2 separate regions of the Homo sapiens genome follow, and region 2 is linked to region 1. Evidence: fine-mapped expression QTL. A gene starts in region 1. The other region holds a variant in brackets. All regions are shown on one strand. Distances are between the middles of the regions. Region 1 holds the start of SLC16A14 (solute carrier family 16 member 14). Region 2 overlaps LOC107985995 (a long non-coding RNA gene).

The links. PIP is the estimated chance that this variant, and not a neighbour inherited with it, causes the effect.
Region 2: its variant is the best candidate, but not a certain one, in a credible set for the expression of SLC16A14 in nasal epithelium (TOPMed, PIP 0.73).

The regions. Positions count from the first base shown.
Region 1 is chr2:230,062,564-230,074,605 of GRCh38, forward strand. It overlaps SLC16A14 (solute carrier family 16 member 14), which reads right to left and starts at 6,361. Exons shown (of 5, transcript NM_152527.5): 1 at 5,992-6,361. LOC107985995 (a long non-coding RNA gene) reads left to right here and starts at 4,176. Exons shown (of 6, transcript XR_001739918.2): 1 at 4,176-4,214. RefSeq lists enhancers at 5,069-5,839, 6,235-6,354, 6,365-6,424 and silencers at 5,215-5,464, 5,735-6,004.
Region 2 is chr2:230,096,001-230,108,042 of GRCh38, forward strand. All of the region lies in intron 2 of LOC107985995 (a long non-coding RNA gene), which reads left to right. Among named protein-coding and RNA genes, the nearest start is that of SLC16A14, 33 kb to the left of the region's middle. The variant C/T (reference allele first, on the strand shown) is at 5,252.

The DNA.
Region 1 (12,042 bases):
GTCTCAAGCAAGCCTCCTGCTTTGCAATCCCAAAGTGCTGGGATTACTTTATCTTTCTAAAGGCTATGTTTCCCAAAAACCCTAAAATACTCTGACCACTTAGAGGAAAAGTTTGCTGACCCCTGGACTAGAGCATTCGTTCTGGCTAAGGGTTTACTGGGGGAAAAAATGAGTGTAGGGGATCCAAGGGTACCAGTGGAGAAGCAACTTAGTGGATCTGTCTGGGGATCATCTTCTTTCTTTCTGTCACACCTTGTTCTCATTATTATTTTTACATTTTAAATTATTCCATCTCCTCAACAGCTGTCCAGTCCTCAGCCACTACAGCACCTATGTGCAGTGCTGCTCTTGGCCTGGGTCCTTCCTCCTTCACACATCTGGCTACCTCCCATTATCCAGATTGCTGGGAGTGATAAAATGTTTATCTCAGAAGCCAATTTCCAGGCCGGCGCAGTGGTTCAAGCCTGTAATCCCAGCACTTTGGGAGGCTGAGGTGTGTGGATCACCTGAGGTCAGGAGCTCGAGACCAGCCTGGCCAACATGGTAAACCCCGTCTCTACTAAAAATAGAAAAATTAGTTGGGCATGGTGGCAGGTGCCTAAAATCCCAGCTACTTGGGAGGCTGAGGTAGGAGAATTGTTTGAAGCTGTGGGGGTGAAGGTTGCAGTAGTGAGGTGAGATCACGTCACTGCACTCCAGCCTGGGTTAAAGAGCGAAACTCTGTCTCAAAAAAAAAAAAAAAAAAAAAAAGCCAATTTCTTCAGCCCTTCGAATTATCATTAGGATGGAGTCCCTTCAGCACCTTCTCCCAGCTATTATGTGTGATTTTCTCTCCTTCCCCTCCTCTCTCCTTCCAGCCTCCTCACCTCTTCTGTTGATCCTTCAAGATTCAGTTAATTTATAATAGTGAAACCCTGAAACAGTGAAAAAAGACCCTGAAAACATCTTTACTATCTAACATCAGAATACTTGTTAAATCAATTGATTGTAGCATAGCTAGACAATGTAGGTCTCTCATCAATAATAAAGTTCACACTTTAGCGTGACCCTGTACATTTTCAAAGAGCCCTAGACAGCTTTATTTTTGACATATGTAATAATCTCTTTGTTATTTCTACTAAGACATGTATCCATAGGAAAAAAGACTGGAGCAAAACAAAGAAAAATGTTGATGGAGATTATTCTTTGAATGATGGTCTTACCAGTAATTTCCCGCTTCTTTCTACTATCTTAGTGGTGAGAAATTTCCTCAATATGCCAGGTGTGGTGGCTCATGCCTGTAATCCCAGCAATCTGGGAGGCTGAGGTAGGAGGATTACTTGAGCTCAGGAGTTTAAGACCAGCCTGGACAACAGTGAGACCTCATCTCCGTAAATAAAAATTAGCCAGGCACATGTGGTGGCGCATACTTGTGGTCCCAGCTACCTGGAGGCAGAGGTGGGAGAATTGCTTGAGCCTGGGAGGTTCAGGCTGCAGTGAGTTGTGATCATGCCACTGCACTCCAGCCTGGGAGACAAAGTGAGACCCTGTCTCAAAAAAAAAAAAAAAGTTCCTCAATAGATATATATTACCTGTATTATAAGAAAATAAAAGCTACCTTTAAAATATTGTCTGGATCAGCCTCTTACCTCCAGGTAAATTAGTGGCTGACTTGTAAAAGAGAAAACAAAACAAGATGACCTCTATTGGGAAGTCTTCCAGTATGTCTTGGGTTTCAGCCTTGTCTGTGTGTGTGTGTGTGTGTGTGTGTATGTGTGTGTGTGTGTGTCTGTGTATGCATGTATCTGTCCCCTTCCCAATGTCTGAGCCTGCTTGGGGCTAGAAAGGGATGGGGCAGCCCTTGCTCTCCAAAGCTTACAGCGCAGTGCAGAGCTGCATTGTCAAAGGGCCAGTGGATGAGCCCAGAGAGGGTTCAGAAGGGATGGTTGGTGAGTGTCTTCCCTCTGCCTCTGTTGTGTGCAGAATCCTGAGGAGCCAGAAACAGGAGAACCAGGCAGCTTGACACAAGGTGTGAATAGCTCATAAAAATGTCATTTTGCTGTCCATGGGAAAATGCTCAGCTATGTTTAATGTGATGAAACAACAATACATGGCATTTTCCTGAAGTTCATTTACAACCAAGGAAGGCTTTGAAGTAATACAAATTTAAAAGTTAGAGTTTTTTAGGCCGGGCGTGGTGGCTTATGCCTGTAATCCCAGCACTTTGGGAGGCCGAGGTAGGCGGATCACCTGAGGTCGGGAGTGTGAGACCAGCCTGACCAACATGGAGAAACCCTGTCTCTACTAAAACTACAAAATTAGCCGGGTGTGGTGGCGCATGCCTGTAATCCCAGCTACTCGGGAGGCTGAAGCAGGAGAATCTCTTGCACCTGGGAAGCAGAGGTTGCAGTGAGCCGAGATCGCACCATTGCACTCCAGCCTGGGCAACAAGAGTGAAACTCCATCTCAAAACAAACAAACAACAACAGGAAAAAGTTATAGTTTTTCAGCCCGTGTGTTGAAATATTAAGCACTTTTCTAAATCAATGATAAGAACTTTATATTCTTACTGAATTATTTATGGGTGAAGAGATGTAGGTGCCAACAAACTGCTCTTGATATTTCCAGTTTGTTCATAAATAAGTGACACTGAATAGCATTTAATGGACAAATTTTATTCATGAGGCACAAGGGTGCATGTAGAATATAGTAAAAAAGTTCTTTTTTTTTTTGAGATGGAGTCTTACTCTGTTGTCCAGGCTGGAGTGCAGTGGCATGATCTCGGCTCATTGCAACCTCTACCTTCCAGGTTTAAGCGATTCTCCTGTCTCAGCCTCCTGAGTAGCTGGGACTTCAGGTGTGCACCACCATGCCAGATAATTTTTGTATTTTTGTAGAGATGGAGTTTCACCATGTTGGTCAGGCGGGTCTGGAACTCCTAACCTCAAGTGATCCACCTGCCTTGGCCTCTCAAAGTGCTGGGATTACAGGCGTGAGCCAGCATGCCTGGCCCAAAAAGTTCTTTTGGATCCTCAGGAGGCCCCTATAGATCTGCTGAGCAATGGAGTCAGTTGTATTTCACACTTAAATCTCTCCAAAAGTAATTACTGTTTTGACTACTCATGGTTAACTTCTAGACCAACTAGTTAATGAAAACAAAAGACAACAGAAAAACAAATGTTTATCCCTCCAACTCCAAGATTGCTTGTAGCATTCATATAATTATATACATGTATAATTATATATGTATTTATATAAGATATAAGAATAATTTTAGTATTATAATCCTACTCCACACCTGGAGAGGGAGAACTTAGAGGGTGTATCTGTACCCCTAGGCTCCATGTCTTTGACCACCATAGGGCCTTCAAGCTCCCTTACATTTTCTACATCCTGACATACATGTAAAATGACGATATGCATGTGGCACCCTGAGGCAGTGAATGTGGGGCTTCTGCTAAGGATTAATATGTAAAATGTGGCAGAACACGGTGGCTCATGCCTGTAATCCCAGCACTTTGGGAGGCTGAGGGGGATGGATCACTTGAGGTCGGGAGTCTGAGACCAGCCTGGCCAACATGGTGAAATCCCTTCTCTGCTAAAAATACAAAAATTAGCCAGTGTGGTGGTGCGCACCTATACTCACAGCTATGCAGGAGGCTGAGGCAGCAGAATTGCTTGAACCTGGGAGATGGAGGTTGCAGTGAGCTGAGATGGTGCCACTGCACTCTAGCCTGGATGATAGAACGAGACTACCTCAAGAAAAAAAAAAAGTAAAAGGTAACCCACTCTAAGCAAGCTTGCTATTGGAAGCTTGACAAAAAATATTAGGGCTTCGTTATGAAGAGGGTGAAATAAGAAAATGGGAAGATTACGGGAGCAATAGTCAGCCTTCCATTCTCCCCAAATGAGTTCATAGACGATGAAAAAGAAATTGTAAATGGGGGGTAACATATATAGGCTATGAAACTGGGTCAGCTACATATTTACGTGATAATAGGCAGAAATGAAAATAACAGATCCTTCTAGGGTGTTTCAGATATTAGAACAAAATTAAATTTTCTACAGCAGCGTAGAAAGTTTTACAAGCAAGTCATTTTTTTTTTTTTTTTGACAGAGTATGGCTTTGTCGCCCAGGCTGGAGTGCACTGGTGAGATCTCGGCTCACTGCAACTTCCGCCTCCCGAGTTCAAGCGATTCTCCTGCCTCAGCCTCCCGAGTAGCTGGGACTACAGGTGTGTGCCACTGCATCTTTAGTATCTTTAGTAGAGAAGGGGTTTCGCCATGTTAGCCAGGCTGGTCTCGAAACTCTGACCTCAGATGATCCACCCGCCTCGGCCTCCCAAAATGCTGGGATTACAGGCATGAGCCACCGCGCTGGGCCAAGTCATTCATTTTTAATTTGGCTATTGTTATTACATTGCATGTGGTGAGCTCATTACACATAAGGAAAGCGGGAAGCACGAAGCTAAAATTGAAATTACAGTCTTCCCCAAAGCTACGCAGAGCGTGGTGGTAGCGGCTCTGCATCCCACGCAGGTGAGTGCGGGCTTCACCTTTAATTCTGCTCTGCAGGCGCTTCCGCGCTCTTCACCTGGTGTGTACAGGGCATTTGGGGCCTTTAGAGGGCGCACTTGCGGCCAGCAGGCTGAAGAGGCTGCCGCGGAGAAGGCTGGGGAGCGGAGCTGAGCTGAGCTGGTGCAGACAGCATAGGAGAAAAACAGAACCGAAAAATTCACACCGAATTAGGAGGACTCAACACATACATGCTTCGCTCTGGGTCAGGGACTGTGCTTGGTGGCTTCTCCTCCAGTCCAATTGGCATGAATGTCCGCATTTTACAGAGGAAGAATCTGAGCCATCAAATGGGAGCAATGAAGCTTAGAAAGGTTAAACTAGCAGGCTGTGGAAACCAAATCGGAACCCAGGCCTGCAGGATCCCAAGCCTGTTTTACCTCCTCCCACCCCCAACACTGCCTCTCTCCCCTCTCTTCTCTCTCTCTCTCTCTCTCTCTCTCTCTCTCTCTCTCACACACACACACACAGCCGCACACGCACGCACATGCAAACAAAGAAGCCAGACAAGGCAAAGGAGAATCTCTCTAAGCCCCAATAATGGCCCTCAGTCATCCTTGTTAATGAGCCCGAATCAACTTTTCCTCAGAAAGAAAATGGCTTAATTGGAAAGCAGAGTTCAGCTCCTAAAACATCGTCATGGCCTTGGCAGCGTTTAGCCCCGAAATGGCCGTCCCCGGTCTCTCACCCCATTTCAGCCTCTCTTGAGGAGCCTCAATCGGAAGCGCTAAGGGGGCCCAGCCTCTGCGCGCCCTGGGTGCGGGATCGTGCCCGCGGGGTCCGGCCTCGCGCCCCACCCTTCGAGCGCCCGCCCCCACCCGCGCTCGGTGCTCCCGCTCCCTTGGCACCCCGAGACCACATCCCCACTTCGGGCACCCCGCATCCCTCGGCGCGTTCGGAAGCCAGCAGCCCACCGGGGAAGCTGGGCCGGCTGCAGCACCACAGCCTGTGCAGAGAGGCATCCGCACCCCGCGAAGTCCCTAGGCGCAGCCCCGGGTCCCCCGCTCTGCGCCTCATCACTGTCCAGTTCGAGTCCCAAACGGGCCTAGAGAGCAGCCGGGCAGCGAGGCTGGGCTCCGGGCAGAACGCGCTTCTCCAGCCGGACGGGGGTGCCCAGGATGACGCTCGCGGGGCCCCGGCCAGCTTGAGCAGCAAGGCGCGCGTCCCCAAGCTCCGCCTGGCGGTCTGCCCTGAACCGCCGGTTACCCTGCCCGCCCGCAGCTCCCAAGCCCCCGCGGCGGCCTTGGCACTACCACCTGCCCCGGCACAGTCTCGCCCTCCACCGCCCGGGCAGCCTTTCCCGAGCCTGCCTTGGGCTGGGGCTGCCCCTTCCCGGGGGTCCCTGGGGGTGCAGCGGCCATCTGAAACCTAGGCTCCGATGCCCCCGGCGTCGCTCCATTCCCCAGGCCCGCGGCGCGCGCGGCCTCGGATACTCACCGCCCGAGGCCCGCTGGGCTGCGGCCTCACTCGGCTCCACGCCCGGATCCTCGAACTTGCTGCTCTGCTTGGAGCCCCCTGAGCTGCTGGGTGTAGAGATTTGTTGCAATGTCGCCTATCATCCTGGAGACGCGGGTGCCTGCGGCTCAGCTCTCCGCCCGGCTCGGTGCGCTCTGTGAGGGGCTCCCGGGCTCTTCCGCCGCTCGCTGCCAGGCCAGGTGAGCGTTTGGTGGAGCTGAAAGCTCGACGCCTCAGTCCAGGTGGCTTTAAAACGGGTGCGTTTGGAGGTGCCCAAACCTAACCTGGGCTTCCTTCCAATCGGAGCAATTTCAAATCTTCATGCTCGTTCATTCCTATACCGGCTAATTCTGGTTTGGCAGGGAAAAAAAATGCAGTCACCTCACATGCACACTCTTGTGGCCGGTTGAAGTTTATAGCTTTGGCTGAGGTTCCGCTAAGGCGCTGCACATTTATCACTGGCGGAAAGGTCCTGAAATCTAATCCAGGATGCAAGTGAGACTAGCAGTAGCCTCCATTTCTCTGAGATGGGAGAGAAGGGATGAAACAGACCCTCACTGAAATATTTTTGGCCAAAGAGGACTCAAAGTCCCTTATTCTCTCTCTTTTAGAGACACGGGTTTCACTATATTGCCAGGCTGGTCTCGAACACTTGGACTCAAGGAATCCTCTGGCCTTGGCCTCCAAAGTGCTGGGATCACAAGCTGAGCCACCGTGACCGGCCAGTCCCTCATTCTTGTTTCCACCCTGGGTCCCACCTCTCCCTGCTCTTTCTGCACGTCCATTACCTACCTTCGTGGGCACCAGGCACAACTTTCATCTCAATACCTCCCTACCTCATTCCCAGCAGGGCACACAACATAGTGCTTTGCCTTGGACAGTTTTCTGTATTATTGAAGTGAATGTGTGAGTCGATGAAGCCTGTGCTGTTTTTTCCCGCCTGAAGGTTTTGCAGTAATTCTCTGCTGCTGTTGTGATAAACTGCCACAGTAATAGCAGAGGAAAACCACACAAATTCACTATTTTACAGTTCTGGAGGTCGGAAGTTTGAAATGGGTCATACTAGGCTGAGATCATGGTGTTGGCCACCTTGAAGGCTGTGTTCCTTCTCGTGGCTGTAGGGGAGAGCCACCAGCTTCTGCAGGCCGCCCACATTCCTTGGCTGGTGGCTCTTCCTCCATCTTCAAAGCCAGCACTGCTGCGTCATTTTGTCTTCTTTCCATACTCACATTGCCTTGTCTCCCCTTTTCTGCCCCCACCCCTGTCCACTTTTAAGGACCCTGGGGATTACATTGAGTCCAATGAGATAATCCAGATAATCTCTCTATTTTAAGGTCAGCTGATTAGCAACCTTAATTCCATCTGCAACCTTAATTCCCCTCTTGCCATGTAAGGTAACAAATTCACATGTTCCAGGGATTAGGATGTGGACATCTTTGGGAGACCATTATTCTGCCTACCACAGATTTCCTTCTTTCTTCTTTTCCTTTTTCTTTTCTTCCTTCTTTTTCGTTTCTTTGAAAAAAAATTCACATGTATTTCACATTGCCTTCCTCGGTCACCCAAGCTGGAGTGCAGTAGCATGATCACAGCTCATTGCAGCCTCAACCTCCTGGGCTCAGGTGATCCTCCCACCTCAGCCTCCTGAGTAGCTGGGACTACAGGCACACGCCACCATGCCTGGCTAATTTTTTTGACTTTTTATAGAGACGGAGTCTCATTATATTGCCCAGACTGGTCTTGACCTTTTGGACTCAAGTGATCTGGCTGCCTCACCCTCCCAAAGTGCTGGGATTACAGGCATGAGCCGCTGCACCCGGCCTATATTGCTATTTCTTATATCAATTCTGTCTCTCTTTTTTTTTTTTTTTTTTTTTGAGATGGAATCTCACTCTGTCACCCAGGCTAGAGTGCAGTGGCAATCTTGGCTCACTACAACATCTGCTTCCCAGGTTCAAGCAATTCTCCTGCCTCAGCATCCCAAGTAGCTGGGGTTATAGGAGCGTGCCACCATGCCCAGCTAATCTTATATCAACTCTTGATTTAAAAATTATTGAGGCTGGGCACAGTGGCTCACGCCTGTAATCCCAGCACTTTGGAAGGCCAAGGCGGGTGGATCACTTGAGGCTAGGAGTTCAAGACCAGCTTGGCCAACATGGTGAAACCCCGTCTCTACTAAAAACACAAAAATTAGCTGGGTGTGGTGGCGCCTGCCTGTAATTCCAGCTGCTTGGGAGGCTGAGGCACGATATTGCTTGAATCTGGGAGGCGAGAATCGCTTGAACCTTGAGCTGAGATCGTGCCTCTGCATTCCAGCCTAGGCAACAGAGTGAGACTCTGTCTCAAAAAAAAAAAAGAAAAAAAAATTTTGAGAAAATTGTGAGAAATTGTGGCCAAGTGAGGGCATTTTGATGAGGTGCTAGGCTTCAGTGGTTTACATATCTTACTTTTGCTGATAAGAACACGGGCAACTGGATGGTTAGTGTTCCCTTGGGCGGTGCCTCTCATATCCACTCATTTCAAGCAGGCTTTTGACAGCAAGATTAGGGTTCCTGACAAGCACTTCAATTGCCGATGATCCATTTTGTTGGAAAAGAAGTCTGTAAGATTTTTAAGTCTGTTTTTTTTTTCTCTGAAAACTTGCCCACTTATGGAGGTATGATGGATCTCATATGAACTGTGCATATTTAGTGTCCAATTTGATGAGTTTCAGCATATGGAGGTAGGATGGATCTCGTATGAACTATGCATATTTAGTGTACAATTCGATGAGTTACAGCACGTCTATGGAACTACCACCTCAATCAAATGACTCCAAAATTTTCCTTGTGCTGCTTTGTAATCCTTGTCCCACCTCCACACACCCAGGCAGTCTTTAATTGGCTCTCTGAGAAGCTTCTACTCTGGACCATGAAGGCTTTTCTGATCAATTATTTTGTCTTCATAAGTTTCACTGCTCTTACCTGTCTGTTGGTCTCTCAGTGACACAGGTGGATTGAGGACAGGCCCAAAGCAAAGAGGACTGTGACCCATAAGTTGGTATGTCTGGGTTAAATAAATAGAAATCCACTATCAGGCCAGGCGCAGTGGCTCATGCCTGTAATCCCAGCACTTTGGGAGTCCGAGGTGGGCGGATCGCCTGAGGTCGGGAGCTTGAGACCAGCCTGGCCAACACGGTGAAAACCCATTTCTACTAAAAATACAAAAATTAGCAGGGCGTAGTGGTGGGTGCCTGTAATCCCAGCTACTCAGGAGGTTGAGGCAGGAGAATTGCTTGAACCCAGGAGACGGAGGTTGAAGTGAGACAAGATAGCGCCATTGCACTCCAGCCTGGGTGACACAGCGACACTCTGTCTCAAAAAAAAAAAAAATCCATCTTCAATTAGAATGTAAAATATAAGCGCTAAACTCTTTTCATGTATCTGAAGTAGAGAAACCTGACATTCTCCCTTGATTTTTAGGCAAATTATATATTTTCTCTCAATAGCAATCTTACCTTTAATTGAATTGCATTAGCTAACAACCTTACATCTTAAGAATGTAAACTAATTCACATGCTGCCTGTAAAAGCCTCCTCTCTTAGTTCTAATCATGTACTCAATTGATTTCATAATCCCACCTTGGAGTTGGGGTGAAACTGAGAATTTGGACAATCTTTGCCTTAATTTTGGTGGTTTAATGGTGTAGAATAGGCACAGAGTGGGATAGAATTAGCTTTTGAGAAAGTTGCTAGCACAGAACATTGAAGGGGTTAGAGAAATGCCTTAAAGTGTCACCGTGACTGCCTCATTGTTGTAGCCAGCCCAGATGTAAAGATGACCCACAACCCACATGGTCACCAAGAATATCCTCTGTCTCTCAGTATGGCCCTGTTCCCCACTCCTCTGAGTTTAATGTGGGAGATCAAAGACTAGAATCCAGAACACAAGTGCCTGAAATGCAAGTGTGCTCAGAAATCACAGGGCAAGCCACACGCTGCACAGCCAGGCAAAGTTTTATGAAGGAGGAAGGAAATGCTTTCTCTTACACAGGGCCAGAAATCCAGTGCTGTGCCCAAATCCGTGCCACCTCTTGGCTTGGTGGGTCAGTCTGTGCCCCCCCAGGATTCTCCCTGTGACTGGATTTATCTTTCCGTAAGTGCAGATGCTTTTACCAAGTGGGGACCTTGGTTACATCTGGTCTTGGCAGGTATCTTCAGTCTTGGCCTGCTGCCAAACCAGCCTCCAGGGATTTTGGACTTCAGCATGGCTTATGGGGACAGAAGGAGGTTGCAGGGCTGATAGCAGCCTTCAGCAGCCTGGAGTCTCATAAGAACCACCACACTGAGATGACATTGGTCATGGCTTCTGGGTGCCTCATAAATTTCAGATTTCAGCAAGGCCTCATTTTTATGCTTTATCCATGAACCATATGTGCTAGTAGTTACTTTTCAGCTATTCATTTATTTTTTCATTCAACAAATATTTGCTGAACGTGTATGATGTGATTTTATGAAGTGCTGGGGATACAGCAATGAACAAAACCAACACAAATGCTTTTCTGCACTAAGTATATGTTCCAGTGAGCAAGAAAAACAAGTTATATATATGTAATGCATATATGTGTATGTGTATTTATTTCTCTCTCTATATATATGTATATATATACATACATATATATACAATTAGTAATAAGCACTAAGAAAAAAATTAGGCAAGGACAGGGAAATTGAAGGGTTATTGTGATGGGAAACTTTAGAAGGGAGAGAGAAAGCATCAATAAGAAGTGCTGGAATGAGCCATGAGAATGACAGGAGGAAGCTCATCCTAGCAGGAAGAGTAGCAGGTACAAAGTCCACAAGGCAGAGGGAAGTGTCTGTAGGTCACCCTAAAGCCTTGAAAATCACAGGAAAAAAACTGGCTTTTATTCAGAGACAGGAAGCCACTGGAGAGTTGAGCAGGGGGGGCTGGGCATGGTGCCTCACGCTTGTAATCCCAGTACTTTGGGAGGCTGAGGTAGGTGGATCACTTGAAGCCAGGAGTTTGAGACCAGCCTGGCCCACATGATGAAACCCTGTCTCTACTAAAAATACAAAAGTTAGCTGGGCGTGGCCGTGCATGCCTGTAATCCCGCTACTTGGGAGGCTGACTACAATAATCCAAGGGAGAGACAATGGCTACTGGGACCATAGAAGTGGCAATGAAGGTTGTAAAACAAAATTGGATCTGAATATACTTTGGAGGCAGAGTTGTAGGATTTGCTTTCAGATTGAATGTGTGAGAGAAAGAGGAGTCAAGGATGACTCCAAGGTTTTGGCTAAGTGATTGGAAGAATGGAGCTGACATTAACAAAGATGGGAAGACTGCAGGAGGAGCTTGTTTGGGGGAGATATTAGGAGTTCAGATTTGGACCTGTTACTATTTTAATATGGCATACATAGTTACTCTTTTAATAGTTACTACTTTTAATAGTTACATGGGATACATAGTTACATGGGATACATAATTACTATTTTAATGTGGCATACATAGTAGTCATACAATGGAATATTATACAGCAATCAAAAGGATCAACTCCATTAATACACCATATGTTTGAATCTTAGAAATTACATATTAAGCAGAAAAAAGCATAATACTCTTTATGCAAAATTACAAAACTTAAACCAAATATTTTTGGAATGCATCTAGGTGCAGTGCAACTATCCAAAAAGAGAAGCAAGGAAAGATGAACATGGGACTTAGGTCAGGGATGACAGGGAGAAGGGATGGGTATGATTAGATGTGCCTTGTTGTGCTGGCTTCGTGGACACTTATTTAATTATTAAAATCAATTAACTTAGCCAGGCATAGTGGCTCACCCCTGTAATCCCAGCACTGTGGGAGGCTAAGGCAGGGTGACTGCTTGAGGGCAGGAGTTCAATATCTGCCTGGGCAACCTCAATAGTGAGGCCCCATCTCTACAAAATAAAAATTAAAAATAACAGCTGGGTGTGGTGGCATGCACCTGTAGTCCCAGCTACTCAGGAGGCTGAGGTGGGAGGATTGCTTAAGC
Region 2 (12,042 bases), 33 kb after region 1:
ATTTTTTAATGGAATTATTTGTTTTTTGCTAGTTCAATTGTTTAAGTTCCTATAGATTCGGGATATGAGACCTTTGTTGGATGCATAGTTTGCAAATATTTTCTCCCAGTCTGTAGGTTGTCTGTTTACTCAGTTGACTATTTCTTTTGGTGTGCAGAAGCTTTTTAGTTTAATTAGATACCACTTGTCAATTTTTGGTGTTTTTTTTTTTGCAATTGCTTTTGAGATCTTAGTAATAAATTCTTTCCTAAGGCCCATGTCCAGAATGGTGCTTCGTAAATATTCTTCTAGGATTCTGATAGTTTGAAGTCTTACATTTAAATCTTTAATCCATCTTGAGTTAGTTATTATAAATGGTGAAAGGTAGGGGTCCAACTTCATTCTTCTGCATATGGCTAGCCTGTATCCCACCACCATTTATTGAATAGGGACTTCTTTTCCCATTGCTTATTTTTGTTGATTTTGTCAAAGATTAGATGGCTGTAGGTGTGTGGCTTTATTTCTGAGTTCTCTTTTCTGTTCCATTGGCCTATCTGTTTATTTTTGTACCAGTACCATGTTGTTTTGGTTACTGTAGCCTTATAGTATAGTTTGAAGTGGATTAATGTGATGCTTCTGGCTTTGTACATTTTGCTTAGAATTGCTTTGGTTATATAGGCTATTTTTTTGGTTCCATATGAATTTTAGAATAGTTTTTTCTAATTCTGTGAAAAATAACCTTGGTAGTTTGATAGAAATAGCATTGAATCTGTAGATTGCTTTGGGCAATAATAAGGCCATTTTAATGATACTGATTCTTGCAATCCATGAGCACGGAATATTTTCCATTTGTTTGTCTCATCTGTGATTTCTTTTAGCAGTGTTTTGTAGTTCTCCTTGTAAAGACCTTTCACTTCCTTGGTTAGATGTATTCCTGGGTATTCTATTTTTTTGTGTGGCTATTGTAATGGGATTGCTTTTTTTTTGGACAGTCTTACTCTGTCACCCAGACTGAAGTACAGTGGCATGATCTCTGCTCATTGCAACTCCTCCTCTAGGGTTCAAGTGATTCCCATGCCTTGGCCTCCTGAGTAGTTGGAATTACGGGCACGCACCACCACACCAGCTAATTTTCATATTTTTAGTAGAGACAGGCTTGTTTCAAACTCCTGACTTCAGGTGGTCTGCCCTCCTCAGCCTCGCAAAGTGCTGGGATTACAGGCATGAGCCACCGCGCGCAGCCGGGATTGCATTCTTGATTTGGCTCTTAGCTCCAGCTAATAACGTTTAAATGTTATTGCTGTAAAGAAATGCTACTGATTTTTGTACATTGATTTTTATATCCTGAAACTTTACTGAAGTCATTTATCAGTTCCAGGAGCTTTTTGGCAGAGTCTTTAGGCTTTTCAATGAATAGAATCCTATCATCTGCAAAGAAAGATAGTTTGAATTCTTCTTTTCATATTTGGATGCTTTTTATTTTTTTCTCATGGCTGATTGCCCTGGCAAGGACTTTCAGTACTATGATGAATAGGAGTGGTAAGAATCACCTTTAGAAGCACATAGTTCTCTGAAATTTGACGAATGTTTACAGTTGTGTAACCACCACCACATTGAAGATGTAGAACAATTTCCATCCAACCAAAAGAGTTCCCTTGTGCCCTTTTGTACCCAACAATTGCCGTCACTACTAACACCTGGCAACCACTCATATGAGTTCTGTCTAGAGTTTTGTTTTTCCAGAATGTCAGGTAAATGAAATTATACACTTGATATTCTTTTGTGTCTGGCTTCTTACAGTTGGTATAATGCCTTTGAGATTTACCTACGTTGCATGTGTTTGTGTGGATTACTATAGCATAACTGTTCCTTCTTACTACTGAGTAGTATTCCATTGTATGACTATATCACAAAGATTTGTTTATCCATTCATGGATTAATGGATATTTGGCTTGTTTCTGGTTTTTGACTTTTAGTGAATAATGCTGTTGTAAACATTTGTGTACAGGTTTGCGTGTGGACATATATTTTCATTTCTCTTGTGTCAATACCTAGGAATGCAATGTCCGGGTCATCTGTGGTAAGTGTATGTTTAACTTTCTAAGAAGCTGTCAAACTGTTTTCCAAACTAGTTATGCCATATTACATTGCCACCAGAAGTCTATGAACATTCCAGCTGATTCACATTTTGGCTAACATTTGATATTGCCATTTTCCCTCACAGTTTTAAACATTCTAATAGGTGTGTAGTGAGTGGTCTCTTATTGTAGTTTAATTTATATTTTCTTAATGATGTTGAGTGTTTTTTCCTGTGCTGATAGCATTTTTTCTAAACTTTTTTTGGTAAAATGTTCAAATTTTCTATGCTTTTGAAAATTGGATTGTTTTCTGATCATTGAGTTTTGAGAGTTTACTTATATTCTGGTTACCTTTCTTTGATCAGATCTATGATTTGAAAACATTTCCTCCCACTCTCTGGCTTATCTTTTCATTTTTCTTAATGTATTTCAAAGACCAGACAATTTAGAAGATCTGCTTTTTTTTAAAAAAAAAAAAGGAGATATAATTCACAGAACATAAAATTCATCCTTTCAAAGTGTACTATTTAGTTGTTTTTATCTATACACAAAGCAATGCAATCACCATTATCTAATTCCAGAACATTTTTGTCACTCCAAAAAGAAACATCATACCTATGAGCAGTCACTGCCTACTCTCCCCTCTCCCTAGATCCTGGCAACCACTAATTTTCCTTGTATTTCTATAGATTTGCCTGTTCTGGACATCTCATGTAAATAAAATCATATAATACGTGGCCTTTGTTTCTGGTTTCTGTTATAATGTGTTCAATGTTCATCCAATTGTAGCAGGTATCAGAACTTTATTCCTTTTTATAGCTCAGTAATATTCTATTGCATGGATATATTACATTTTGTTTATTCATTATTCATTTGAACATTTAGATCATGGCTATTATACATAATGCTGCTATGAACATTTGTGAACAAGCTTGTGGGTTTATTTGTTTTTGAGACCGAGCCTTGCTCTGTTGCCCAGGCTGGAATGCAGTGGTGTGATTTCGGCTCACAGCAACCTCTGCCTCCTGGGTTCAAGTGATTCTCCTGCCTCAGCCTCCTGAGTAGCTGGTATTACAGGCATGTGCCACCATGCCTGGCTAATTTTTGTATTTTTAGTAGAGATGGGGTTTCACCATGTTGGCCAGGCTGGCCTCAAACTCCTGACCTCAAGTGATCTGTCCACCTCAGCCTCCCAAAGTGCTGGGATTCCAGGTGTGAGCCATGCGCTGGGCTTATGTGCAAGTTTTTATGTGGATATATGTTTTTATTTCTTTTGACTATATACGTTGGAATCGAGTTGCTGGGTCACATAGTAATTCTTTGCTTAACTTTCTGAGGAACTTCCAGTACTATTTATTCTCTGTCCTTTTCATACTGCCTATCCTAGTGGATGTGAAGTGGTATCTCGTTGTGGTTTTAATTTGCATTTCCCTAGTGCTAGTGATTATGGACATCTTTTCATGTCTTCTTAGCCAAAAGCATATGTATGTTTTCCTCGGAGAAATGTCTATTCAAATCCTTTGTCCTTTTACAAAGCTGGGTTCTTTATATTATATATTTTTTTAAGAGATGAAGTCTTGCTGCATTGCCCAGGCTGGAGAGCGGTTTCACAATTTTAGCTCAGTGCAGCCTCAAACTCTTGTCTTTAAGTGAATCTTCTGCCTAAGCTTCCAGAGTAGCTGGGACTACAGGTGTGTGCCATCACGCCCAGCTCTTTTTATTGTTAAGTTGTAAGAGTTCAAAAAGCTGAAGTTTTAAATTTTGAAAGAAAATATACTTTTTTTACTCTGTGGTTTGAGCTTTTCGTTTGCTATATAAGCAACATTTGCCTAACCTAAGGTTGCAAAGACTTTTCTTTTTTCTTTCTTTCTTTCTTTTTTTTTTTTTTTTTGAGAGACAGAGTCTTGCTCTGTCACCCAGGCAGGAGTGCAGTGGTGCGATCTCAGCTCACTGCAACCTCTGCCTCCCAGGTTCAAGCCATTCTCCTGCCTCAGCTTCCCAAGTAGCTGGGACTACAGGTATGCACCACCACACCCAGCTAATTTTTGTATTTTTTAGTAGCAGTGGGGTTTCACTATATGTTGGCTAGGCTGGTCTCGAACTCCTGACTTCAGGTGATCTGCCTGCCTTGGCCTCCCAAAGTGCTGGGATTACAATCATGAGCCACCACCACACCAGGACTCTTTCCTTCTAGAAGTTGTTTAGTTGTTGGTTTTACATTTAGGTCTATGATCCATTTAAGTTGAATTTTGTATATGATTCAAGGTACAGGTCAAGATTTATTCTTTTTTTAAAATCAAATTTTTATTTTTGATTTTTGTGGGTACATGGGTGTATATATTTATGGGGGACATGACATATTTTGATACAAGCATCCAATGTTAATAATCACATCATGGAAAATGGGATTATCCAATTCTTCAAGCATTTATTTTTTGTGCTACAAACAACCCAAGTATACTCTTTTAGTTATTTTAAAATGTACCATTAAATTATTTTGACTATAGTCACCATGTTATGCTATCAAATATTAGGTATTATTCATGCTTTCTAACTATTTTTTTTGGTGACCATTAACCATCTCCACTTCCCCACCACTCCCCACTCCCCTTCCCCGCCTCTGGTAACCACCCTTCTACTGTCTGTTACCATGAGTTCAATTTTTTTGGATTTTTAGATCCCACAAATAAGTGAGAATATGCGATGTTTGTCTTTCCTTGCCCAGCTTATTTCACTTAACATAGTGACCTGAAGTTCCATCCATGTTGTTGCAACTGACAGAATCTTATTCTTTTTTATGGCCGAGTAGTATTCCACTGTGTGTAAGTACCACATTTTCTTTATCCATTCATCTGTTGATGGACACTTAGGTTGCTTCCAAATCTTGGCTATTGTGGACAGTACTGCAACAAACATGGGAGTGCAGATACCTCTTCAGTATACTGATTTCCTTTCTTTTGGTTATATACCCAGCAGTGGAATTGCTGGATCATATGGTAGCTATATTTTCAGTTTTTTGAGGAACCTCTAAATTGTTCTTCATAGTGGTTGTACTAATTTACATTCCCACCAACAGTGTATGAGAAAATCAATGTACTGATTTCCTTTCTTTTGGGTATATACCCAGCAGTGGAATTGCTGGATCATATGATAGCTATATTTTCAGTTTTTTGAGGAACCTCCAAATTGTTCTT[C/T]ATAGTGGTTGTACTAATTTACGTTCCCACCAACAGCGTATGAGGGTTTCCTTTTCTCCATATCCTTTCCAGAATTTGTTATTGCCTGTCTTGGATATAAGCCTTTTTTAAAAAAAAGTTAATGTAATTTTAGGTTCCAGGATATGTGTGCTGAACATGCAGGTTTGTTACATAGGTAAATGTGTGCCATGGTGGTTTGCTGCACCTATCAACCCATCACCTAGGTGTTAAGCCCCGCATACATTAGCTGTTAGTCCTGATGCTCTTCCTTCCCCTGGCCCCTTGACATGCCCCAGTGTGAGTTGTTCTCCTCCCTGTGTCCATGTGTTCTCATTGTTCAACTCCCACTTATAAGTGAGAACATGTGGTGTTTTGTTTTCTGTTCCTGTCTTAGTTTGCTGAGAATGATGGCTTCCAGCTTCATCCATATCCCTGCAAAGGACATGATCTCATTCCTTTTTATGGCTGCATAATCTTCCATGGTGTATATGTACCACATTTTCTTTATCCAGTCTATCATTGATGGGCATTTGGGTTGGTTCCAAGTCTTTGCTATTGTGAATAGTGCTGCAGTAAACATATGTGTGCATGTATCTTTATAATAGAATGATTTATATTCTTTTTGGTATATACCCAGTAATGAGATTGCTGGGTCAAATGGTATTTCTGGTTCTAGATCCTTGAGGAATCGCCACACTGTCTTCCACAGTGGTTGAACTAACTTACAATCTCACCAACAATAAAAAGGGCATTTCTATTTCTCCACAGCATTGTCAGTATCTGTTGTTTCTTGACTTTTTAATAATCGCCATTCTGACTGGCATGAGATGGCATCTCATTGTGGTTTTTATTTGCATTACTCTAATGATCAGTGATGTCCAGTTTTTCTTCATGTTTGTTGGCCACATGAATGTTTTCTTTTGAGAAGTGTCTGTTCATGTCCTTTGCCCATTTTTTGATGGGCTTGTTTTTTTCTTGTAAATTTTTTTAAGTTCCTTGTACATTCTGGATATTAGACCATTGTCAGATGGGTAGATTGTAAAAATGTTCTCCCATTCTGTAGGTTGTCTGTTTGCTCTGATGATAGTTTCTTTCGCTGTGTAGAAGCTCTTTAGTTTAATTAGATCCTATTTGTCAATTTTAGCTTTTGTTGCAATTGCTTTTGGTGATTTCATCATAAAATCTTTGCCCATGCCTATTCACTGAGTAGTAATGCCTAGATTTTTTTCTTGGGTTTTTATGGTTTTGGGTTTTACATTTAAGTCTTTAGTCCATCTTGAGTTAATTTTTGTATAAGGTGTAAGGAAGGGGTCCAGTTTCAGTTTTTTGCATATGGCTAGCCAGTTTTCCCAGCACCATTTATTAAATGGAGGACCTTTTGCCATTGCTTGTTTTTGTCAGGTTTGTTGAAGATCAGATGGTTATTTCTGAGATCTCTATTTTGTTTCATTGGTCTATGTGTCTGTTTTGATACCAGGATATAAGCCATTTTAATTGGGGTGAGATGATTCTCATTGTAGTTTTGATTTGCTTTTCTCTGATGATCAGTGATGTTGAGCACTGATTGTCATGTGTATGTCTTCTTTTGAGAAATGTCTATTCAAATATTTCACCCATTTTCGAATCAGGTTATTAGATTTTTTCCAATAGAGTTGTTTGAGTTCTTTATATATTCTGGTTATTTATCCAGATATTTTCTCCCATTTTGTAGGTTTGTCTTTTCACTTTGCAAATATTTTCCCTCGTTTTGTGGGCTGTCTTTTCACTTTGTTGATTGTTTTATTTGCTTTGCAGAAGTTTTTAAACTTGATGTGAACCCATCTGTCTGTTTTTGCTTTGGTTGCCTGTGCTTGTGAGGTATTGTTCAAAAAATTTTTCCAAGGCCAATATCCTAGAGATTTTTCCCAAAGTTTTCTTGCAGTAATTTTGTAGTTTGAGGTCTTAGATTTAAGTTCTTAATCCATTTTGATTTGGTTTTTGTATATGGTGAGAGGTAGGGGTCTAGTTTTATTCTTCTGCATATGGATATCCATTTTTCCCAGCACCATTTATTGAAGAGACTGTTTTTTCTCCAGTGTATGTTCTTGGTGCCTTTGTCAAAAATGAGTTCACTATAGGCATGTGGATTTGTTTCTGGGTTCTCTATTCTGTTCCATTTGTCTATGTGTCTATTTTTATGACAGTATCATGCTGTTCTGGTTACTATAGCTCTGTAGCATAATTTGAAGTCAGGTAATGTGATTCCTCTAATTTTGTTCTTTTTTTTTTTTAAATTCTCTACTTAACACCTCATTTCTGAGGAGCCTAAGTTGATTTTTTTTATTATTATACTTTAAGTTCTGGGATACACGTGCAGAACATGCAGGTTTGTTACCTAGGTATACAGGTGCCATGGTGGTTTGCTGTACCCATCAACCCGTCATCTACATTAGGTATTTCTCCTAATGTTATCTCTCCCCTTACCCTCCACCCCCTGACAGGCCCTGGTGTGTGATGGTCCCCTCCCTGTGTCCATGTGTTTTCATTGTTCAACTCCCACTTATGAGTGAGAACATGTGATGTTCAGTTTTCTATTCCTGTGTTAGTTTGCTGAGAATGATGGCTTCCAGCTGCATCCATGTCCCTGCAGAGGACATGAACTCACTCTTTTTTGTGGCTGCATAGTATTCCATGGTGTATATGTGCCACATTTTCTTTATCCAGTATATCATTGATGGACATTTGGGTTGGTACCAAGTCTTTGCTATTGTGAATAGTGCTTCAATAAACATACATGTGCATGTGTCTTTATAGTAGAATGATTTATAATCCTTTGGCTATGTACCTAATAATGGGACTGCTGGATCAAATGGTATTTCTGGTTCTAGATCCTTGAGAAATTGCCACACTGTCTTCCACAATGGTTGAACTAATTTACACTCCCAACAACAGTGTAAAAGTGTTCCTATTTCTCCACATCCTCTCCAGCATCTATTGTTCCCTGACTTTTTAATGATCACCCTTCTAACTGGCGTGAGATGATATCTCATTGTGGTTTTGATTTGCATTTCTCTAATGACCAGTGATGATGAGCTTTTTTTCATATGCTTGTTGGCTGCATAAATGTCTTCTTTTGAGAAGTGTCTGTTCATATCCTTCACCCACTTTTTGATGGGGTTGTTTGTTTTTTTCTTGTAAATTTGTTTAAGTTCCTTGTAGATTTTGGATATTAACCGTTTGTCAGATGGATAGATTGCAAAAATTTCCCCCCTTTCTCTAGGTTGCCTGTTCACTCTGATGATAGTTTCTTTTGCTGTGCAGAAGCTTTTTAGTTTAATTAGATCCCATTTGTCTATTTTGGCTTTTGTTGCCATTGCTTTTGGTGTTTTAGTCATGAAGTCTTTGCCCATGCCTATGTCCTGAATAGTATTGCCTAGATTTTCTTCTAGGGTTTTTATGGTTTTAGGTCTTACATTTAAGTCTTTAATCCATCTTGAGTTAATTTTTGGATGAGGTGTAAGGAAGGGGTCCAGTTTCAGTTTTCTGCATATGGCTAGCCAGTTTCCCCAACACCATTTATTAAATAAGGAATCCTTTCCCCATGAAGGTGAAAGGAGTATTATTAGGAGTACTGACTCACATGATCACAGATGAAGTCCCATAATAGGCCATCTACAAGCTGAGGAGCAGGGAAGCCCGTCCAAGTCCCAAAACCTCAAAAGTAGGGAAGCCAACAGTTCAGCCTTCAGTCTGTGGCCAAAGGCCTGAGAGACCCTGGCAAACCACTGATGTTAGTCCAAGAGTCCAAAAGCCGAAGAACTTGGAGTCTGATATTTGAGGACAGGAAGCATCCAGCATGGGGAAAAGATGAAGGCTTGAAGACTCAGCAAGTCAAGTCTTTTCCACACTCTTCTGCCTGGTTTATTCTAGCCACTCTGGCAGCTGATTACACGGTGACCACCCAGATTGAGGGTGGGTCTGCCTCTCCTAGTCCACTGACTCAAATGTTAATCTCCTTTGGCAACATCTTCACAGACACACCTAGGAACAATACTTTGCATCCTTCAATCCAGTCAAGTTGACACTCAATATTAAGTGTCACATAGGCGCTTATAGCTATACATTTCCCTCTTAGTACTGCTTTCATTGTAGCCCATAGGTTTTGGTATGTTGTGCTGCCATTGTCCTTCATTTAGAAAATTTTTCAATTTTCTTGTTAATTTCATTGACTCACTGGTCATTCAGGAACATATTGCTTACTTTCCATGTGTTTATATAGTTTCAAAAATTCCTGTTGTTGTTCACTTCTCGTTTTATGAGAAATTCTGTATCAAGATAAGATACTTGATATTATTCCCATTTTTTGAATGTTTTAAGACTTGTTTTGTGCCCTAACATCTGTTCTATCCTTGAGAATGATCCATGTACTAAAGAGAAGAATGTGTATTCTGCAGCTGTTGGATAAAATGTTCTGTAAATATCTATTAGGTCCATTTGGTCTACAGTGCAGATGACATCCAATGTTTCTTTGTTGAGTTTCTGTGTGAAAGATCTGTCCAAAGCTGAAAGTGGGGTGTTGAAGTCTCCAGCTATTATTATATTAAGATCTGTCTCTCTCTTTAGCTCTATATGCTAAAGAGAGCATACAGAGTTCTGTTCATATATTTGCTTTATATAAAGCAATATGTAAATATTTGCTTTATATAAAGCAATATGTAAATATTTGCTTTATATAAAGCAATATGTAAATATTTGCTTTATATAAAGCAATATGTAAATATTTGCTTTATATGTCTGAGTGCCTCAGTGTTGGGTGCATATATTTACAATTGTTATATCCTGTAGCTAGACTGACCCCTTTATCATTACAAATGACCTTTTTTTGTCTCTTCTTACAGTTTTTGTCTTGAAATCTATTTTGTCTGATATAGATATAGCTGCCCCTGCTCTTTTTTGGTTTCCATTGGCATGGAATATCTTTTTACATACCTTTATTTTCAGTCTATGTGTATCTTTATAGGTGAAATGTGTTTCTTGTAGGCAACAGATCAATGGGTCTTGTTTTTTAAATCCATCCACCCACTTATGTCTTTTGATTAGAGAGTTTAGTCCATTTACATTCAATGTTATTATTGACAACTAGGGGCTTACTCCTGCCATTTTGTGATTTGTTTTCTGATTGTTTTGTGGTCTCCTTTTTCTTCTTTCCTTCCTTCATGTCTTCTTTTTAGTGAAGGTGATTTTCTCTGGTAGTATGATTTAGTTTCTTGCTTTTTGTTTTTTGCGCATCCACTGTTTGTATACTTTTTCTTTTAAAGTTACCATGAGGCTTGCAAATACTATTTTATAACCCACTATTTTAAACAGATGGCAACTTAACACTGATTACATAAAAAAACCAACCAAACAAACACACAAAAAGAAAACTAATACAAACTCTACAATTTAATTTCATTTTCCTGCTTTTTAACTTTTTGTTGTTTCTCTTTATGTCTTATTTTACTGTCTATGTCTTGAAAAGTTACTGTAATTATTATTCTTGATTGGGTCATCATTTAGTCTTTCTACTTAAGATAAGAGTAGTTTACACACCACAACTACAATGTTATAATAGTCTGTGTTTTTCTATGTCCTTACTATTACCAGTGAGTTTTGTTCCTTCAGATGATTTCTTTTCGCTCATTAACATCCTTTTCTGATTGAAGAACTTCCTTTAGCCTTTCTTGTAGGACAGGTTTGGTGGTGATGAAATTCCTCAGCTTTTGTTTGTCTGGGAAGGTCTTTATTTCTCCTTCATGCTTGAAGGATATTTTCATCAGATATAATATTCTAAGATAAAAGTTTTTTTTTCCCTTCAGCACTTTGAGTATGTCATGTCACTCTCTTCTGGCCTGTAAGGTTTCCATTGAAAAGTCTGCTGCCAGATGTATTGGAACTCCATTACATGTTATTTGTTTCTTTTCTCTTGCTGCTTTTAGAATCCTTCCTTTATCCTTGACCTTTGAGAGTTTCATTATTGAATGCCTTGAGGTAATCTTTGAGTTACATCAGCTTGCTGTTGTATAACTTTGTTGTACTTGAATTTTGATTTCTTTCTCTAGGTTTGGGAAATTCTCTGATATCCTTTTGAATAAACTTCCTATCCCTTTCTTCCTCCTCTTTTAAGGCCAAAAACTCTTTTTTTTTTTCTTTTTGAGGTGGAGTCTTGCTCTGTCACCCAAGCTGGTATGGAGTGGCACAATCTCAGCTCATTGCAACCTCTGCCTCTCAGGTTCAAGCTATTCTCCTGCCTCAGCCTCCCGAGTAGCTGGGATTATAGGTGTGCGCCACAACACCTGGCTAATTTTTGTATTTTTAGTAGAGATGGGGTTTCACCACATTGGCCAGGCTGGTCTTAAACTCATGACCTCAAGTGATCCACCTGCTTCGGCCTCTTAAAGTGCTGGGATTACAGGCGTGAGCCACTGTGCTTGGCAGGCAAAAAACTCTTAGATTTGCCATTTTGAGGCTATTTCCTAGATCTTTTAGGGTGCTTTATTCTTTTTTCTTTTGTCTCCTCTGACTGTGTATTTTCCAATAGTCTGTCTTCAAGCTCAGTAATTCTTCTGCTTGATCACCTCTGCTATAAAAGTCTCTGATGCATTCTTCTGTATGCCAATCGCATTTTTCAACTCCAGAATTTCTGCTTGATTCTTTTTAATTATTTTAATCTCTTTGTTAAATTTATCTGATGGAATTCTGAATCCCTTCTCTTTGTTATCTTCAATTTTTTTTTTTCAGTTTTCTCTAAACAACTATTTTAAATTCTCTGT